Homo sapiens: one gene and its partners. The protein of the gene in region 1 purifies or fractionates together with the protein of each later gene. This does not show direct contact. Each region holds a gene or a part of one and is shown on either strand. Other genes may lie near its edges.

Region 1 (8,309 bases):
TACCACTGAGGCTGTGAGGACCCTAGGAGATAACAGAGGGAAGACAAATGCAGTGTTCATGCTCATTGCTGTTTATTGAAACAAAAGAATCAGAAGAAGATCAGAATGAAGACAATAATAAAAAGCAGAAGCAGAAGTACAAGAAGAATAAAGAAAGAAAGGGAAAGAATTGTAGGAAGGAAAAACTTGTAGAAGTAGAGGGTGGAGAGTGCGAAGAGGTGGAGTATGATGGGCAGTCCGATCTTTTCCATCTGGGCTTTCAGACAATGGGATATGTCATGGAAGGCTTCTTTAAACACCAGAAGAAATTCAGGATAAAGCTCAAAAAGAGCAGGCAATCGATAGGGGTTGAAAATCCACTCAGTAGGCCACGGAAGGACTTCAAGAAGGTTGATCGTTCTGTCGCTGGATGTTGTAGGTGTCCTACGTGAAGGCAATCGACATCTGGATGGCTGTGTGTCTGCTCTTTGTGTTCGCTGCCTTGCTGGAGTATGCTGCCATAAATTTTGTTTCTCGTCAGCATAAAGAATTCATACGACTTCGAAGAAGGCAGAGGCGCCAACGCTTGGTGAGTACAACTAGGGAGCGGCCCACTGCCTTTCTCCTTTGGACTCCTTCCTCCCTACTCCGCCTCCCCACAAACCAAGACCCACCCCAGGGCTGCAAGGACTAGATAGGCAATCAGAAACCCTGGATTCATAAGGGCGCAGTGGCTCACGCCTGTAATCCCAGCACTTTGGGAGGCCGAGGTGGGCGGATCACCTGTGGTCGGGAGTTCGAGACCTGCCTGATCAACATGGAGAAGCCCTGTCTCTACTAAAAATACAAAATTAGCCGGGCGTGGTAGCGCATGCCTGTAATCCCAGCTACTTGTGAGGCTGAGGCAGGAGAATCGCTTGAACCCAGGAGGCGGAGTTTGCGGTGAGCCGAGATTGAGCCATTGCACTCCAGCCTGGTCAACAAGAGCAAAACTCCTTCTCAAAAAAAAAAAAGAAAGAAAGAAAGAAAGAAACCTGGATTCTAGTACTAAGCTGGTCACTGTTAAGCTAAGTACTTTAATCTCTTTGATTACTTTAATCTCTTTGATTACTTTAATCTCTTTGATTTTAATCTCTTTGATTACTTTAATCTCTTTGATTCTGTAAGTCAGTATAGTAGATTGATTAAGGGCATGGGCACACTGCTTGACATAGAATAAGCACTGAAGATATGTTAGCTAGTAGTAGAACCTTACCAAGTTAGCTAATAAGAGATTGCTTTGCCAGGCACGGGGGCTCACGCCTGTAATCCCAGCACTTTGGGAGGCCAAGGCGGGTGGATCACAAGGTTAGGAGTTCGAGACCAGCCTGACCAACATGGTGAAACCCTGTCTCTACTAAAAATACAAAAATTAGCCGGTGTGGTGGTGGGCACCTGTAATCCCAGCTACTCAGGAGGCTGAGGCAGGAGAATCACTTGAAGCTGGCAGTGAGCTGAGATCACACCACTGCACTCCAGCCTGGGCAACAGAGTGAGACTCCATCTCAAAAAATAAGTAAATAAATAAATAAATAAAAAGAGATTGCTTTGAGTAGTAATTGCTCCCCCACAACCGGGAGGAAGGTAGCCCAGGTTGTCATACACTAATTGGTGGTTAAGAATTCAACAATCAGGCATTGGTGTCTTTCTAGGGGAGCATTATAAGAGGACCCCCATAACTAAGTTGGAATTGAGAAACCACCACTTGCCTGTTCTGACTGTTGGATTTCTTCTTCTTGATCTTCATTGGGTGCATTAGAGTTGTTGGGCTTGAGTTGTTGTTCTCCCTCACTCTTTTCTGTTAACCTCATTTCTTCTACAGTAAAGTGATCACCTGGGGAAATATAAAAGAAATCTTGTCGTCATGACAACAGAGGCAGTTTACCCCCAATTGCCCAGACAATAGGTGCTAGGTAAGTTGTCATGACAACAGAGGTGCCTGGGCCAGCCTCACAGAAGCAAGTGTCCAATTATGAGCAAAGCTGAAAGGCTTAACTGAGCTACATACTGGTTGCTTAACCATTAGAGACACAGAGTTCTGGTCTGTCTTCAGCTCTGACTCCATGTTTTCTGTCTAATCTGGAGGCTCTAAAGCCAGAGAGGCAAGAGCATAATGACCTCTGGGGGATGGGAAACAATGCTGTGAACCCACTCTTAAAATCCTGACTCTAGCTTGTCTGGGCCACACTAGCACAAGGAATGTTCTCTCCTCAACACACCACCTCCCACCTCAGCTGCTCCAGGGGCACCCCTACCGTATGTCCGCACTAAAAATATCTCACAAACTACCTCCTTGGTTTCATGTCCCTTGCTAAGGTTCCTTTCTGCTGAGGGCAGGGCTCCTGTCTCATCTAGTGGTTTGAATTTATCAGTCCCTACCCTTTAGTCCTTTAGTTGGTCCCTGGGCAGTACGCCCTCTAGTGGACTAATCCACAACTACATGTCCTCGAGTAGGACTCATTCTTCAAGAAACCTAAAAGCATTTCCTAACCCATACCAAGGGTTAGAAAAATATGTGTATACACCTAGCAGAAGGGCAAGAAAAAAGGACACTCCATTTTCTTTTTTCTTTTTTTTTTTTTTTTTGAGACGGAGTCTCGCTCTGTCGCCCAGGCTGTAGTGCAGTGGCGTGATCTGGGCTCACTGCAAGCTCCGCCTCCCGGGTTCACGCCATTCTCCTGCGTCAGCCTCCTGAGTAGCTGGGACTACAGGCGCCCGCCACCACGCCCGGCTAATTTTCTGTATTTTTAGTAGAGACAGGGTTTCACCGTGTTAGCCAGGATGGTCTCGATATCCTGACCTCGTGATCCGCCCGCCTCGGCCTCGCAAAGTGCTGAGATTACAGGCGTGAGCCCCCGCGCCCGGCCAGGACACTCCATTTTCTAAGCTAACTGTCCCCACCCCCTCTTTAGCTGTGTCGAACAAATCTGCCTGCAGGTACCAAGATCTTATCTTTATAGGAGTTTTGATCTTGGTGCCTTCTCAATGCCTACCTTGGAAAAAAAAAAGCAGACTGCCAACCAATCCAGAGTCCTTTCACCAGCTAAGTTGCCTGTATGGATGTCCCAGCAACAAAAAGGCTGCCATTGTTACTGTAGAGCTATTCCAGGTTGACTCTAGTCCCACCTCCTTTCCTGAACTCCTGCAACCCGCAACTGCCTGCAGCCTGTCCCCTCCTGCTCATATATATAGGCTGATCCTGAGCTCATAATGGAGTCTGTCATGACCAGTGCTCAATTATTACAAAGTTACAACAGCAGCCTGGGCCTTGCTTAGGACTCTGGGGCCTGCCTAAAAGTGGGCTGAGGCTTTTTTTAACGTGAATTATTATTATTATTAACGTGAATAAAACTGAAAATCAAACCCGTGCCATTCGTCATGTCCTTTTTTGAGTCTTCTAAAGTCACTGTTATCCCAGGACCTGTAGCAGGTATTTTGGAGGCACCAAGCAGGCTGAAAAAATTGTTGGAGAGTTCATCCATTTCTAGAACCTCTGTCCGGGCCCTACTGCTCCAGCTAGGGAAAAAGAATTCTTCAGTCTGAGAGGGCAGGGAGAAAATCCATGTGATCTCCAGGGAACCCTTAGCCAAGAGTCAGTTAGGAGTGTTCTAGGAACCAGCCAGCCATTCACATCTTTTCTTCTCAACTCTCTCCTCAACCAACAACTCCATAGCATGGTGGCCCCCTTTCATGTCACTGCCTAAAGTGGTTTACTTTTTACCCATGCAATCCTACACTGTCTTCCCGGCTAGTCCATAAGCTTCCCCAGGAAAGGGAAGCTCTTTTTCATCTCCTCAGCAGGCCTTAGCACCAGGCTCTGGACACAGCAGTCATGTAACCCAGCTCACCAACTTTTACAGGCTGATTGGAGAGGACTGTCTTTCAAACTGGACAGAGCAAAAGCTTTGCCATGATCAATAGAATAACTTGATAACTGGAAGAAATTTCAAAATACTGCCCAGTCCTCTCAAGGGCTTGGTCCCAGAACCCTGCCCACCTCTCTTCATCCTCCAGCACCCTCTTCATTCCCCATTCTCTAATCCCTTTTTTTCTAGCCCCTCTCACTTCAATACAAATCACTCTTTCCCATCTCCACACTTTACCTCCTACACTGTGCATTCCCTCCTTAGCGTGGTTTTGAGATATCTTCCCTCTCTAGCTTCTCAGTCCTTCTCCCCTATAGATAGCCAGGGGAAAAAAAGTTCTATTTTAATAGGCATGTAAGCCACAAAGTGGTATTTAAGGCTCCAATGTTCCTTTCCAGCACACACACACACACACACACACCCCACACACAAACACCCCTCAGAATTTGGCCTAAATAGAGAATACCCAAATGCAGGATGCCCCACCCCTGGATTTCAAGCCATTCATCTTTGCTCCTCCAGCTACAACAGGTGCAGTATGTTAAAGTCACAAAAAGCCAAGACCAGCTTACTCTGTTGGCCATATTTTCTCTCCTGTGTGAAATGGCTTTTTCCAGCCTGGGAAATGTGTCCAAATAACTCCCTTTAGATTTATTATGATTGGAGAAAAGGGAAAATAATTAGATCTATAGAAACAGAAATAGCAGTTGGATCCAACTTTCCCCCTCAGAGCTTTTTTGCCAACATCCTTTGCTTACATCCTCTAGCCAGGGTAGGGCTCAGGGGATCAGGGTGAGTACTGGGCAACAGGGTCATCTGAGGGACCCTGAACTGGAAATCAAAGGAGAAAACCATTTTACTTACTCCCCTCATTTTAAAATTATTGCAAAATATTTTGTTTGCCTCTGGTTCTTCACCTCGAAAATGGGTCCAGCACAACCTCCTTTGTCAGAATAGTGTAAAAATGAATTACAGAGTACATGTGAGGTGAACCAAGGCCTGTCTTTATGATGACAGGTCAGTTTCTAGTCATGTCATTATCAAGGGTTACTAGGACCTACAACACCAACATCTCATACACAAAGCCACTTTTCTTTTTTTTTTTCTTTTTCTTTTTTTTTTTTTGAGATGGAGTCTCGCTCTGTCACCCAGGCTAGAGTGCAATAGCGCAATCTCTGCTCACTGCAACCTCCGCCTCGTGGGTTCAAGCGATTCTCCTGCCTCAGCCTACTGAGTAGCTGGGATTACAGGTGCCCGCCACCACGCCTGACTAATTTTTGTATTTTTAGTAGAGAAGAGGTTTCACCATATTGGTCAGGCTGGTCTCGAACTCCTGACTTCGTGATCCGCCAGCTTCGGCCTCTCAAAGTGTTGGGATTACAGGTGTGAGCCACCGTGCCTGGCAAAGCCACTTTTCAGTGTGTTGCCATAGCTGCAGAGGTCCCACGATAAAGACCCTGTGGTGTCCCTCTAACTGAGAGAGACAGAGTGTTTAAAATCTACTTTATCCACATTTTGTATATATCTATGTCATACCTATACAATATACACATATTTTTTTCTTATAACTTATAATAAATACCTCAGGTAGCCACAGGATGACCAGCTCTTCCTGATTTGCCTTGCACTTCCCCAGTTTCAGCCCTGAAAGACCCAAGTCTTAGGAACACCTTCCGTTCTGGACAAACCGAGATGACAGTTTGCATCGTCCTCCAAGAGGCCATTGCACTTCAGGTGATTTCTTAGATACCTGAAACTTTGACTCTAAAACCATGAATACTTTAAGAAATTACCACCATCTTTGAAGGAAGCATTTCTCAACCCTGTCCTTTAGAAGTAAATAAAATTAGGCTTGTTAGGGTTGCATATAAAATAAGACTAAATAGGCTGTGAATGGGGGCCTGAGGGCCTCATATAAGTAAAGCTCTCTCTATTGACACTCAGAGGTTTTGGTTCTCTCTCTCTCTCTCTCTCTCTCTCTCTCGCTCTCTCTTGCTCTCTTTCTCTCTCAACTTTATCTTTCTGTCCCTACTTCCTGGCTCCTAGCTGCGTTTAGCTACTAAAGGTTGTCAGCTAACTATTGGAAAATGGACTTTTGGCAGTCTGCCGCATTACTTAGTGCTTATATAAAATTTACCCCTCACTGGGCATGTGTTTATCCTAATTTGGATAACTCATTGGGTTATTTAAAACTTTTGGAATTTTCAGTTTTAAGTTGAGATAAATTTTAAAAGATACGATTCAAAAGGGGAATGAATTCTGAAGCTTTTGAAAGTCATTAAAGTCAAGTTTACTAAGACTGAATATCTCAACTTCACTATCTAATAGTTTTGTTGTTTTGTTTATTACCAGTCAGAGATAACTTGACATTGAGATGTCCTCTCACAGTGGCCGGCACTTCACTGGATTTTAGATAACTCTAAATGATGTTTTGCATTTTACATGGGTAGCTTAGAGCCTATCTGCCATGGAATCATGACATACACTATATATAGCACGTAGAGCTGCTTAGCATACATCTATCTCATGAGTAGTGTTGTGACCATAAAAAGCATGCAATGGGCCTGTGTACCCAAGGCACCTTGTCTGCATAACATTCCCTATGAGATATTGATGGGTGGTCTGTTCTCTATCCCTCTGCCTTTGAGCTTTGACCTCAAATTCTGCCGTTTCTTCCTTGTAATTCCAGGAGGAAGATATCATCCAAGAAAGTCGTTTCTATTTCCGTGGCTATGGCTTGGGCCACTGCCTGCAGGCAAGAGATGGAGGTCCAATGGAAGGTTCTGGCATTTATAGTCCCCAACCTCCAGCCCCTCTTCTAAGGGAAGGAGAAACCACGCGGAAACTCTACGTGGACTGAGCCAAGAGAATTGACACCATCTCCCGGGCTGTCTTCCCTTTCACTTTCCTCATCTTCAATATCTTCTACTGGGTTGTCTATAAAGTGCTATGGTCAGAAGATATCCACCAGGCTCTGTGAATAGGGTGGGAGCTATAGAGTCCTGCTGCTGGCCTCCTGCTTCCTCCTGGGTGGGCTTTCTCCCTCAGTTAGACTCCATTAGGGGTTTGGACAGTTCCTTCCTGATCTCCCACTCAGAACTTCAACTACCAGTCCCAAAGCTATGTGGGCCTATATTGCATGGTGCCAATGGTGGCTGTACTTATAAAGATGGCTTATCTACCCTAGTCCATATTTTCTCCATACTTTCCCATTTCTCATGAGACTAAGGTTTGGCCACATTCCTGGGGCCAGGATGACCTTCTGCCCTTGCTGGAGCCTCCCTGTTTTCCAATACTCCAGTGGAGAGTATTCAGAACACTGCTGCTAGATTCTGGCATTTGTCATCTTAATCTGCACCACTTCTCCCCCTGCCACCTCCCACCCAGAGCCTGGCCATTACTCTGTCCTCTGTCCCTCCTGCTGCAGATTCAAATGGTGAGTTTCTCCTATCCACAAGTGCTGCCCTGTGGGGCCTAGTCAGGTTTCCTTGAAGTGAGAGGAAGGCAAAGCCGCAAGTTCCCCACCTCTCGAGAGGGTTGGAACAGTCATAGGCTGCACTGGGCTAGCGACTATATGGCCCAACAGAGAGGTGTTCAAGTCTCTTGGGAAGCCCCACACTTTGTCTTCATCCCTTTTCCTATTGCGCTTGTCTGCTCTTTCCTGTTCACTGAGATACTCCTCTTGTCTGTCTCTTAGTTTTGAGGAGAGCGTTCTGAGCTGACCAGGGTAGCTGGTTCAGAAATTACTGTCAGAATTGGGGCAGAGACTTTGGGTTCTCAAAAAGACTAACCTTCCAGATCCACCTGAACATTCTGGTCTCAGAAATATTCGTTCCGTTCCCTAATTAACTAGCATGATGGCAGGATCTGTTGGACAGCTGGGGAGTGTAAAAAAAGAAAAATACTTGTTCTTTAAGAAACTTACTTTATGATGCTAGAAAACTTTTGAGAAAAGTGAGATCCAAGGTAGTGGAACCCAGGAGGAGTAGAATAGAGAAACTATTCTCAGAGTGTCTTTTGTTGGCTGGGCTTTCATTTGTTTCTTCTTTCTCACCAAAGTCTATTTTCCAGGGCCCTTCATTTCCAACCTGGTCTTTCACCTCCTTTTGGTGTGCAAATAAAGGTGCCGCTGCAACCTTGTTAAGGATAGAATGGGCTTCAGGTTTGCTGGGGAGGAACTAGGCACGTAGAAGACCCCTATACTAGATCAACATTGATTTGACCAACATCAGGGTAGAAGTTGTAGAAGTTAAAGAGCCATAATTCAGAGTTGTTTCTTCACCCTTCTTGCTCCACAAGGAGAAGCAGTGAGTAGGTGTAGCAGTCAGTTGAAGCTACCAGAAACGTCAGAATAGAGAGAGTTGGTGTGGAAGAGCCCACTTCAGGCCTGACATACCACTGGGACATGGGGAAGCATGTGCCTGG
Region 2 (3,182 bases), on another chromosome or scaffold:
TCAGGGGCTCCAACAGGGAGAAAAAACAATCACTGGTCTTGTCTATAAGTCACTCTGCTTTATCTTGCTAAAGACAATTTTTCAAGCAATCCTTTAGTTTTAGTTTTCTGGAATAGCTAGTATTGGGTTTTCTAGTTTTTTCACCTTTTAGTTTTTACTCTAATTTTGTAACCATGTATATGCTAGCAGTCCACTTCTACGCCACCACCCAAATGGGTCAGACCCTTGAAGAAACGTCACTTCAAACTCAGAATGAAATTTTCATTAATATTAAAATTGTGAAGCAAAGGTCAATAGGCTTATATTTAATTAAAGCCTTACTGAAGAATAAGAAATGAGCTTAGAATGACTAGTGTTCTTTGAAAGGTTTTTTTATTTTTGTTTTTTTGGGGTTTTTTTTTTTTTTGAGACCGAGTCTTGCTCTGTCGCCCAGGCTGGAATGCAGTGGTGCGATCTTGGCTCACTGCAATCTCTGCCTCTCGGGTTCAAGCTGTTCTACTGCCTCAGCCTCCTGAGTAGCTGGGATTACAGGTGTGTGCCACCACGCCTGGGTAATTTTTTTTTTTTTTGTATTTTTAGTAGAGATGAGTTTCACCATGTTGGTCAGTCTAGTCTCGAACTCCTGACCTTGTGATCCGCATGCCTCAGCCTCCCAAAGTGCTGGGATTACAGGCATGAGCCACCACGGCCCGCCAAAAGGCTTTAACCCATGAACAAATGTTGGATCCTGACATTTTGTTTAAGAGTGATTTGTTCAATAATTGAACTGAGTTAACATTCTTGGTAAACCAGGTAATTGAATGAAGAAAGGTCACTAAAGGGAGAAATGACATGTTTTCTATTTTCTTTTCATGAAAACACTGTTTTTCCCCCTAATAAAGCATATTTTACTTTGGTGCTTATTTTTCCTCCTTGCAGTCTAATAAAAAAATCTGGACAATCAAACCTTAAAATAGCTACACTCTGCCCTCTGTAATGTAGCATTCATAAAAATTTGGAAGTATTTACATCCTCTTTCAAGATGAGCTTATATGACACAATTATTATTTGCTGATACATGAAAATACTGCACTTTAAGTTTCTCAAGACTCTGAAATATGTAAAATTCAATATTTTTATATTCCCAGAAATTGTTTCTTACAGGTTGAAAGTCTTTTAAGGGCATCACAAATTAACATTTACTCCTAATGCACGCCTAGAATGTATTTTAAATACTTACTAAGAAGAATGAAAATTCTTTGGTTGTTTTATATATAAATAAGGCATATATAATGACACTGTGTTCTGTGAGGGAGCAGGCCCTGTGAGAATCAATTCAGGACAGTATTTTTTTTTGTCCTTTCTCCATCCTTGATCAGAGATAAACTATTAAAACTTTAAAAAATACTCAAAAATATGTAAGTTTTTTGGTTGAACCTTTAGATTTGCTCATAATGTTTAACATAACAACATTTATTTCAAATCACTGAATTCATGGAGATGTGGACACGCTTGGTTTGCTCTATTTTTGTTTATGTGTGATAGTGGTTCTGTCATCATCATTCATGTTTTTTAAGGCCTGGTCATAAAACTTTAAATTTTACTAGTGTTACTTAATGTATATTCTAAAAAGAGAATGCAGTAACTAATGCCCTAAATGTTTGATCTCTGTTTGTCATTACTTTTTCAAAATTATTTTTTTCTGTAAAGTATAATATATAAAACTTCTTGCTTAAATTGAATTTCTATATTAGTGGTTAATTGCAGTTTATTAAAGGGATCATTATCAGTAATTTCATAGCAACTGTTCTAGTGTTTTGTGTTTTTAAAACAGAATTAGGAATTTGAGATATCTGATTATATTTTTCATATGAATCACAGCTGTTGACAATGTCCCATATATTTAAGAAATTATATCATACTGATACTATTTGTAACATTTTGATTTGATTTAATCTCCAGGGACAGAAATAATTCATTGGTAAAGTGTAATAATGCGTTTTTTAAAAATGCTTTGAGAGGTAATTACTTGCATATGAGAGAAATAAAACATTTGGCACATTGTTTACAGGTGTGAAAACTTTGTGGGTTTGTGTTATTCAAGTAACATTTGCTTTACTTTTTGTCTTTCCCTTTTCCTCTTCCAATCCCAAAATAGTGAGAAGTTATATTGATAGTTATGGAGGACTTTACAAGATACTAGTCAGAAAAGCTTTTTCTCAGGGGTACTGAGCCCCTTTATCACACTAGAGATCTGTGGCAGAGACCTCCAATACTGGGGGATTACAGAGAATGCGGTTGACCTAGGGGCCCAGCTGCACTTTGAAATCCATTGCTGTATTTGCATTGAGCCCATGCCTTCCGTGGTTTCTCTCAGCGACTGGCTGAGTATGAAGTTATACTAAGACATACTTAGTCTGGAAATTCTAGGAGACACAGAACTCCTCTGACAGCCGACTTTGGCTTGAAGACTCTTCAGTGGCCTTGCAGAACCTTTCTTAGACTGCATGGCAGTCTGGGATGTTCTACCATACCGCTGTCTTTCTCTTCTCCTCCCTCTTCCACATGGGGCTCAGACTACCAGTTTGGAAGGCTCACCCAGTGCTGGATTATCTGGTAGGAAGAATAAGTTCATGCTGAGGGCTGTAGCAAAGCAGGGGCATTAAAAAAGGAAAAAAAAAAAAAAGGAAGAAGACTGTACCCAAGCTTCGTAAGAAAAATGCCATCCAGGGTGGACTTACTTCCATGTGTTTTATGATTTAGTATTGTTTTTATTTTGAATTATGCATGAAGGAGGACACTATCATCTTTTTGGTGCTTTGAGTTTCTAAGTATGTTGATCTGGTGCTGCCTGGATATCTGTTTTTAACGAAGTTCTGTGTGTGTTTCTAATGTACAGCCAGGACTAAAAATTAATGCTCTGGACTTAAAATGATCAAATTCTTAAAGGGCTCTACAGATCTCAATGTTAGTTAATATTAAGTTGCAATTATTGCCAGAGCTGGAAGAATCATCTTTTTATTGGGGAGAAAAACCAAAGATTCTTAGAGGATAGAAGATTGCTCATAACAGGGTCATTTGTCCTCTGGGGACAAGCCCTTGTGGTTGAGAATCACTGCCAGAATGACCATGAGTACTGATGAAAGTGGGTTCTGTGCCATGTGTGTCAGCTCTAAGAAGAAATCGAGACTCACTGGAGCGGA
Region 3 (8,031 bases), on another chromosome or scaffold:
TTCATGAAAGAGGCCGGGGGTGGTGGCTCACGCCTGGAGTCCCAGCACTTTGGGAGGCCGAGGCAGGTGGATCACCTGAGGTCAGGAGTCCAAACCCAGCCTGGCCAACATGGTGAAACCCTGTCTCTACCAAAAATACAAAACTTAGCCAGGCATGGTGGCAGGCACCTGTAATCCCAGCTACTCGGGAGGCTGAGGCAGGAGAATCCCTTGAACCCGGGAGGCAGAGGTTGCAGTGAGCCAAGATCACACCACCGCACTCCAGCCTGGGTGACAGAGTGAGACTCCATCTCAAAAAAAAAAAGAAAAAGAAACTCATGAAACAAACCTGAATAAAGTTGGGGGTGGGGGGAGAATTCACATTCTTTAATGATCCTCATTTAGGCCGCCCAAATTAAATGTCTCAAATTTGTTCATGAGGATCACTTATAAAATAATATACATGGGAGAGAGGCGACAGTGCTTTATCACTGTTCTTAAATGTCCTGGAACTGCATTACTGGTACCTGGGCACCAGATGACGCTGATACAATGAACAATCTTAGTCGATTATTACAAACCCCAAACTCCAGAAATCCTCTGGCTCCAGCCACGGTATTTAGATTTTGTAGGTACTACTGCCTGTTATAATAACTGGTGTTTACCAGTATTACCAAAAAAAAAAAAAAAAAAAAAAAAAGACTAATTTTAGTATTACAAAAAGTCAACATGAGGGAAACTGAGACACAAAAGTTTAACTGGGTTCTGAGATTGCTCAACTAGAAGATCCCAGTGGAAACTGTGAGCCTCAAATCTTGTTCTGATCCACCATGTCAGTCATCAGCCACCCTGCCAGGCACTACAGACTTGCCATGGCACGCATCCCACTGGAGCCAGCCTACTTTCAGGATCCTCTCCAAGCACGCTGCCCCACCTCTAGTGATTCATCTTAGTGCCAGAAGATACACCTATCCCAACTGAGAGGCTGCCATCCAACAACTACCTGAAGCACAAGGCCTCCACAAGAATGAATTCAATCTCCTGGAAAAACTGGCTTTTGTTTGTCAACAATATCTTGTACTTCCAGAGAAGATTAACTTTTATTGGTCAACAGTGACAGCAAAAAGAAAAAAACAGCATTTGGTAAAATATTTGACCAATTTCTTTCCAAAGATTTTTTTTTCTGCAAATGGAATATAAAGATATTTTTTAAGGGTAGAGTTACATAAAACTAATTATTAGCTACATTTGTTTAAAGAAGATGTTATAAGAACAATTTTTTAAAAAAAATGCTCAACAGTCTGAATAAAAGAAACATTTCTCTATTGTAACTTTTTTTTCTGGAGACAGAGTGTTGCTCCCTCGCCCAGGCTGGAGTGCAGTGACGGGATCTCGGATCTCGGCTCACTGCAACCGCCATCTCCTGGGTTCAAGCGATTCTCCTACCTCTGCCTCCTGAGTAGCTGGGATTACAGGCACCTGCCACCATCCCCGGCTAAGTTTTGTATTTTTGGTAGAGACAGGGTTTCATCATGTTGGCCAGGCTGGTCTGAAATCCTGACCTTAAGCGATCTGCCCACTTTGGCCTCCCAAAGTGCTGGGATTACAGGCGTGAGCCACCGTGCCCGGCCACTATTATAACTTGAAAGGAGTAAATTTGTGAAAACCAAATGTGAAACTGACTAATCTTACTATGGGGACTCCAAACAAATTTGAGCAAGAAGCCAAGGTCAGAGTACTCTTTATTTTTGTAGTTATTGCCACTAATTTCGGCCCTAAATGCCAACTCTGAGTGCCAATTACCAATTATCTCCAAATCAAGGGAAACAACTGTCAGTTTGTAAACAAGTTCAGGCCCTACCCTACTTGCCCTAAACGGAAAAGAATGCAAAGCACAGATTTTAAAAGCATGAGTGATTAGCATTGTGAGGCAACCTGGTCAGTAACATTGAGGCCCAAACCAGAAAGCACCCATTATTTGCTCTGCTAAGCATCTAGACCGTGCTTGAGGCCACTTCAAGGATTCCCTGAAGGAATTCAGTGTCAGCAAGGGCCGCCAGACTGGCCAGAGTCCCAAAGTGTTTACACTCCGGTCCATCAGGACTTCTAGGCAGCTGCCTGGCACTGGCACTAACCCCCACCTGGGCTCCCCTACCCAGTGGGGCGGGTGACAGTAGGGATCAGTGCTGAGCCCACGGGCGGGCAGACAGCCGGGCATGACCTTGAGCCAGGCCCCTCCCCTGAGGAGCGGCCAGACCGGGAATAGGAAGGACTGGCAACCGGACCTGGGCGTCCCTCCCCGAGGCGGCCAGGGCTGAACGCTGCCGGCGCCAGGGAGCTCCAAAACCGGGGCGGGGACGGCTGTGCGACCGGTGGCCCCACAGGAACGGCACTGCCCGGAAGGCGACGCTCCCACAACCCTCCCGCCCCCAGCTCTCGGAACCCTCAGCCCCCTCCAGGGGACAGAGACCCCACCACCCAAGTAAAACCTGGAGGGAACGGCGCCGGGATCCCATACCTAGGAGGAGTGGCTGGGCCAGGGCGTGACCCTGGGGGGTAAAAGGTAAAGAGAGGTTTTAGGCCTGATGTCTGGCATCCCACACCTAGGAGGAGTGGCTGGGCCAGGGCGTGACCCTGGGGGGCAAAAGGTAAAGAGAGGTTTTAGGCCTGATGTCTCCACGCGAGAGTGTGACCTCGGGTGGCTGATTAAGGGAGGTGGCTAAGGCATTCTAGAGAACTGACACCCCACTCTTCGGCGTAATGTGGGGGGCTCGCACACTGGGGTCCTGCATTGAGACCAAGGCTCAGGCGGACAGGCGCGGACTGACACCCCCCAATTCCAGGGCGCCAGGCTGCTGGGACCCCGGAAAGTGTGCCGGGGTCCAGCGGGGGCTCGGGCTCCCCAGGACACGGACGTCGGGGTTCCCAGAGGTTCAGCCAGCCCCGAGCCTGTGCTTGGGGAGCTCGCGGGGACTCGGACGCAGGGGTCCCCGGAGGTGGCGGGCTTGGGGCCCGGGGGGAGCAGACGCCCAGGGTTACCCCGAGGGGCTCAGACCGAGGCCGGACGACGGGGCCCCCAGGCTCCTAGCATCGCTCTCCCCAGGGTGGGCCCGGGCCCCCATGTCCAGGCGGAGCCCTAGCGGCGGCCCGCGGGTCCGCGCCGGCCCTGCAGTTCCCGACCCTGGCCCCGCCCGGCACGGAGCCGCTCGGCCCCTACCTGTCGGTGTCCCGGGCCGCCCGCCCCAGCCCGGCGCTGCGCGGCGTTTCCTCCCCGCCGCTCCTCAATGGCGCAGGCCCGCGGCGCTCAGGCCGGCCCCGACCCGACCAATCGAGCGGCCGACGCGCCGGTGCCTGGCCAGCCGAGCGCCGAGTTATCGAGGAGGCGCCCCCTGGCGCCGGCGGCCGCTCCTGCAGTGGTGCGGGCCCCTCCAGGGTTCGCGGACACTGGGGCTTATTTTATAGGTGGGGAAATTGAGTCCCAGGGGAGGGCAGGGCCACAAATGACTCTGGTTCAGACAGCATGGGAACCCAGGATTCTTCCCACCTACAACCACCCTGCCTTCCATCCAAGCGAAAGGTGCGATTGGCCGTCCGTCTGGCCCACTCACCCACAGTCCGTTCCCCACTTCGCAGCCACAGGGGCCTGTTAATTCAGACCCTGCCCTTCCCTGCTTAAAACGGCGTCCCCACCGTACTTCAGTTAAAACCCACCTCCTTACAGAGCTGCCACCAAGGTCCCACTGGATCTGGTCCCTTCCCATTTCAGCCACTTTTTCCCCGGCCGACTCTGCCTCAGCATCCTTCAGTTTCTGCCCCAGGAACTGTACCTTTGCCGTTGTCTCTACCTAGGACCCTTCTCCTCAGACCAATAGAAACACAATGCCAGCCACATAGGCAATCCACATTTACTAGCTAGTACATTTTTTTTAAACGAAAAAGAAGAAAATGAACTTCATTTTAATATATTTAATCCAATATGTTCAAAATATGATCATCTCAACATGTCGCCAAAAGAAAAAATTACTAATACAATATGTTAACTTTTTTATAGTAAGTTTTTGAAATTCGGGTATATTTTACATTTACTGCGCATCTCAGTACAAACTAGCCAGAATTCCAGTGCTCAATACCCTCTTGTGGCCAATCCAGAGCTACAGAATAGCTCTGGATATTCGTATAGCTGACTCCCTCTGGCTTCAAATATTCCACTCAGAGAGGACTTGTGCCTATCTACGGTTCCATTATGAGCTGGGCACAGTGGCTCATGCCTGTAATCCCAGCACTTCAGGAGGCTGAGGCGGGCGGATCACTGAAGTCAGGAGTTTGAGACCAGCCTGGCCAACATAGTGAAACCCCATCTCTACTAAAACTACAAAAATTAGCCGGGCGTGGTAGTGCACACCTGTAGTCCCAGCTACTGGGGAAGCTGAGGCAGGAGAATCACTTGAACCCGGGAGGCGGAGGTTGCAGTCAGCCGAGATCACCCCTCTGCACTCCAGACAGAGTGAGACTCCCTCTCAAAAATGAAAATAAAAATAAAGTTCCATTATCCATTACCCTGTTGTATTTTATTCATGGAACCTAATACTCCCTGAGATTATCTTGTTTGTTTATACATATGTTGTTCTTTCCCCAGTACCTTGAAAACAGAGATTTTATCCCTTTCACAGTGTTTCTTCAACACCTAGACATTGCCTAGCACAGAAAAGACTCAATGAGTGTGTATGAATGAACAGCTGAACACTTCCTCCTTGCATTATCACAAGAAGGGCAAGAGGGAGACCTCAGGCTCATATAAATTAGAAGATGCAGGAAGCAGAACGGCAAGGTTACAATCATGTATTTACCATAATAATTACCAACCCTCATGATGCTAAGCTAATGAGGGTGCATGTTGGGCTGACTCACTCCTGAGCAAGACTGGGGTTCCTGTATGGTGGGATCAACCTCTCAGAATCTGGATGCTGGGTCTCCTCTGGGGCTGAGGTTTGGGAGTAAAACCTGGAACTCCACAGACAGAAGGAGGAAGGAAGGCAGTCCTTCAGAGGTGAAGGACCTCGAAGTCCAGATCACCTAGCACAGACAATTGGCTGTACCTGGGAAGCTTGTTAGAAATGCACATGGCCCAGGCCAGGCGCGGTGGCTCATGCCTGTAATCTCAGCACTTTGGGAGGCAGATGTGGGTGGATCACCTGAGGTCAGGAGTTCAGGACCAGCCTGACCAACTTGGCAAAACCCCATCTCTACTAAAAATACAAAAATTAGCCGGGCATGGTCACAGGTGCCTGTAATCCCAGCTACTCTCCTGGCTAAGGCAGGAGAATTGCTTGAACCCAGGAGGCAGAGGTTGCAGTGAGCCGAGATCTCGCCATTGCACTCCAGCCTCGGCAACAGAGCAAGACTCCATCTCAAAAAAAATCCAAAAAAATACTGCACATGGCCTGGCACCGTGGCTCACACCAGTAATCCTAGCACTTTGGGAGGCCAAGGCAGTGGGGGGGATTTTTTGAGGCCAGGAATTCAAGACCAGCCTGTGCAACATAAGGAGACCCCAATCTCTACAAAAAATTATAAATGAAAAAATTAGCTGGGCACGGTGGCACATGCCTGTACTCCCAACTACTGGGAGGAGGATTGCTTGAGCCCATGAGTTCAAGGTTACAGTGAGCAATGATCATGCCTGTGCACTCCAACCTGCGCAACAGAGACCCTGTCTCAAAAATGCAAATTCCTGGGCACCATTGATTCGACCAGTATTACTGAAAGTCTTCGTGCCCCCAGTTTCCTATAAATGTTTAAATATACATTTACCATACAGCAATCCCACTGCTAGATATTAGCCAAGAGAAATTAAAACATATGCCCACACCAAGACTTATACATGAACACTCATAGCAGCTTTATTCATAAAAGCCAGAAACAAAAAAAAACAATCAAAATGTCCATCAACAGGAGAGTGGACAAACAAATTGCAACATAGTCATACAATGGAGCACTACTCACCAACAAAAAGGTGAGTAGGGCTGACGCAGGCACGATCTGGAGGAACCTCAAAAGTATTAGCTATGTGGAAAAAGACCACATACCGTAGTGATTTCATTTCTGTGAAATTCCAGAAAAGACAAAACTGTCAGAGGAACTACAGGCTACAGATGCACTACCACACCCAGCTGATTTGGGGGGTTTTGTTTGTTTGTTTGTTTGTTTGTTTGAGACAATCTTACTCTGTCGCCCAGGCTGGAGTGCAGTGGCACAATCTCGGCTCACTGCAGCCTCTGCCTCCCAGGTTCAAGTGATTCTCATGCCTCAGCCTCCCGAGTAGCTGGGATTCCCGACGTGCACCACCACGCCCGGCTAATTTTTGTATTTTTAGTAGAGATGGGGTTTTGCCATGTTGTCCAGGCTGGTCTTGAACCCCTGAGCTCAAGCATTCCTCCCACCTTGGCCTCCCGAAGTGCTGGGATTACAGGCAGGAGACACTGCTCACAGCTTTTTTCAAAAATTTAATTGACAAATAATTGTATATATTTATGGGCTACAGTGCACTGTTTTGATATCTATTTACAATGTGGAATGATTAATTCACACTAATGAACAAATCCATCAGCTAACATACTTTTTTGGATGAAAACTTTTTTTTTTTTTTTGAGACGGAGTCTCGCTCTTTCGCCCAGGCTGGACTGCAGTGGCGCTGTCTTGGCTCACTGCAAGCTCCGCCTCCCGGGTTCACGCCATTCTCCTGCCTCAGCCTCCCGGGTAGCTGGGACTACAGGCGCCCGCTACCATGCCCGGCTAATTTTTTTTGTATTTTTAGTAGAGACGGGGTTTCACCGTGTTAGCCAGGATGGTCTCGATCTCCTGACCTCGTGATCCGCCCGCCTCAGCCTCCCAAAGTGCTGGGATTACAGGCGTGAGCCACCGCGCCCGGCCAGATGAAAGCATTTAAAACCTACTCTTTTAGCAATTCTGAAATATGCAATGTATTATTTCTTATAGTCACCATTCTGAGCAATAGATCACTATAGCTTCTTTCTCTTGTTTAACTGAAACTTCGTACTCTTTGTTTTGTTTCTTTTTTTTTTTTTTGAGACGGAGTCTCTCTCTGTCACCCAGTTGCCCAGGCTGGAGTGCAGTGGCGCGATCTCAGCTCACTGCAACCTCTGCCTCCCAGGTTCAAGTGATTATCCTGCCTCAGCCTCCCCAGTAGTTGAGATTACAGATATGTACCACCACGCCTGGCAAATTTTTGTACTTTTAGTAGAGACGGTGTTTCATCATGTTGGCCAGGCTGGTCTCAAACTCCTAGCCTCAAGTAATCCACCCACCTCGGCCTCCCAAAGTGCTGGGATGACAGGCGTGACCACCATACCTGGCCCAAACTTTATACTCTTTGGTCAACATCCCCAAGTTCCCAACCCAAGAGTTCCTGGGACCACCAGGATCTCCAGAGAGATAAGAGTGTCTTTTCGTAGGTTCCTGAGACGACTGGTGGCTGAAAGTCCCTAGACAGCTTCAGAATGGGGCTGGTTTCCAGAGGGAGCAACCATGTTATTAGAGAGAGGGTGGGCCTATCTCACGCAAAAACACACACTCTTTGACCGCCTCCGACCTGCGGGGAGGATTGGAGATTGAGTTCAATCACCAATGGCCAATTATTCAGTCAATCATGCCCACGTAAAAACCCTAAAGGTGGTCGGGCACAGTGGCTCACGCCTGTAATCCCAGCACTTTGGGAGGCCGAGACAGGTGCATCACAAGGTCAGGAGATCAAGACCATCCTGGCCAACATGGTGAAACCCTGTCTCTACTAAAAATACAAAAAATTTAGCCGAGCATGGTAGCGGGCGCCTGTAGTCCCAGCTACTTGGGAGGCTGAGGCAGGAGAATGGTGTGAACCTGGGAGGCAGAGCTTGCAGTGAGCTGAGATCAGGCCACTGCACTCCCGCCTGGGCAACAGAGAGACTCCATCTCAAAAAAAAACAAAAAAACCCTAAAGGTTCAGTGTTTCCAAGCCCCACCCCATCTCTAACACCTTGGCCTGTGCATTTTTCC

The links.
Region 2: the proteins of TMEM31 (region 1) and VPS13C purify together in Homo sapiens (co-immunoprecipitation; 2 studies listed by BioGRID and IntAct, with this or other methods). This does not show direct contact.
Region 3: the proteins of TMEM31 (region 1) and VPS13D purify together in Homo sapiens (co-immunoprecipitation; 2 studies listed by BioGRID and IntAct, with this or other methods). This does not show direct contact.

Annotation. Positions count from the first base shown.
Region 1 is NC_000023.11:103,705,779-103,714,087, reverse strand, and holds TMEM31 (transmembrane protein 31), read right to left. Parts: upstream 3,180-8,309; 5' UTR 3,012-3,179; intron 1,853-3,011; 5' UTR 1,830-1,852; coding exon 1,728-1,829; intron 569-1,727; exon of another isoform or gene 495-568; coding exon 90-494; 3' UTR 56-89; downstream 1-55.
Region 2 is NC_000015.10:61,851,266-61,854,447, reverse strand, and holds the end of VPS13C (intermembrane lipid transfer protein VPS13C), read left to right. Parts: 3' UTR 1-2,059; downstream 2,060-3,182. UniProt on the Homo sapiens protein: Mediates the transfer of lipids between membranes at organelle contact sites. Necessary for proper mitochondrial function and maintenance of mitochondrial transmembrane potential.
Region 3 is NC_000001.11:12,225,286-12,233,316, reverse strand, and holds the start of VPS13D (intermembrane lipid transfer protein VPS13D), read right to left. Parts: upstream 3,288-8,031; 5' UTR 3,197-3,287; intron 1-3,196. UniProt on the Homo sapiens protein: Mediates the transfer of lipids between membranes at organelle contact sites. Functions in promoting mitochondrial clearance by mitochondrial autophagy (mitophagy), also possibly by positively regulating mitochondrial fission.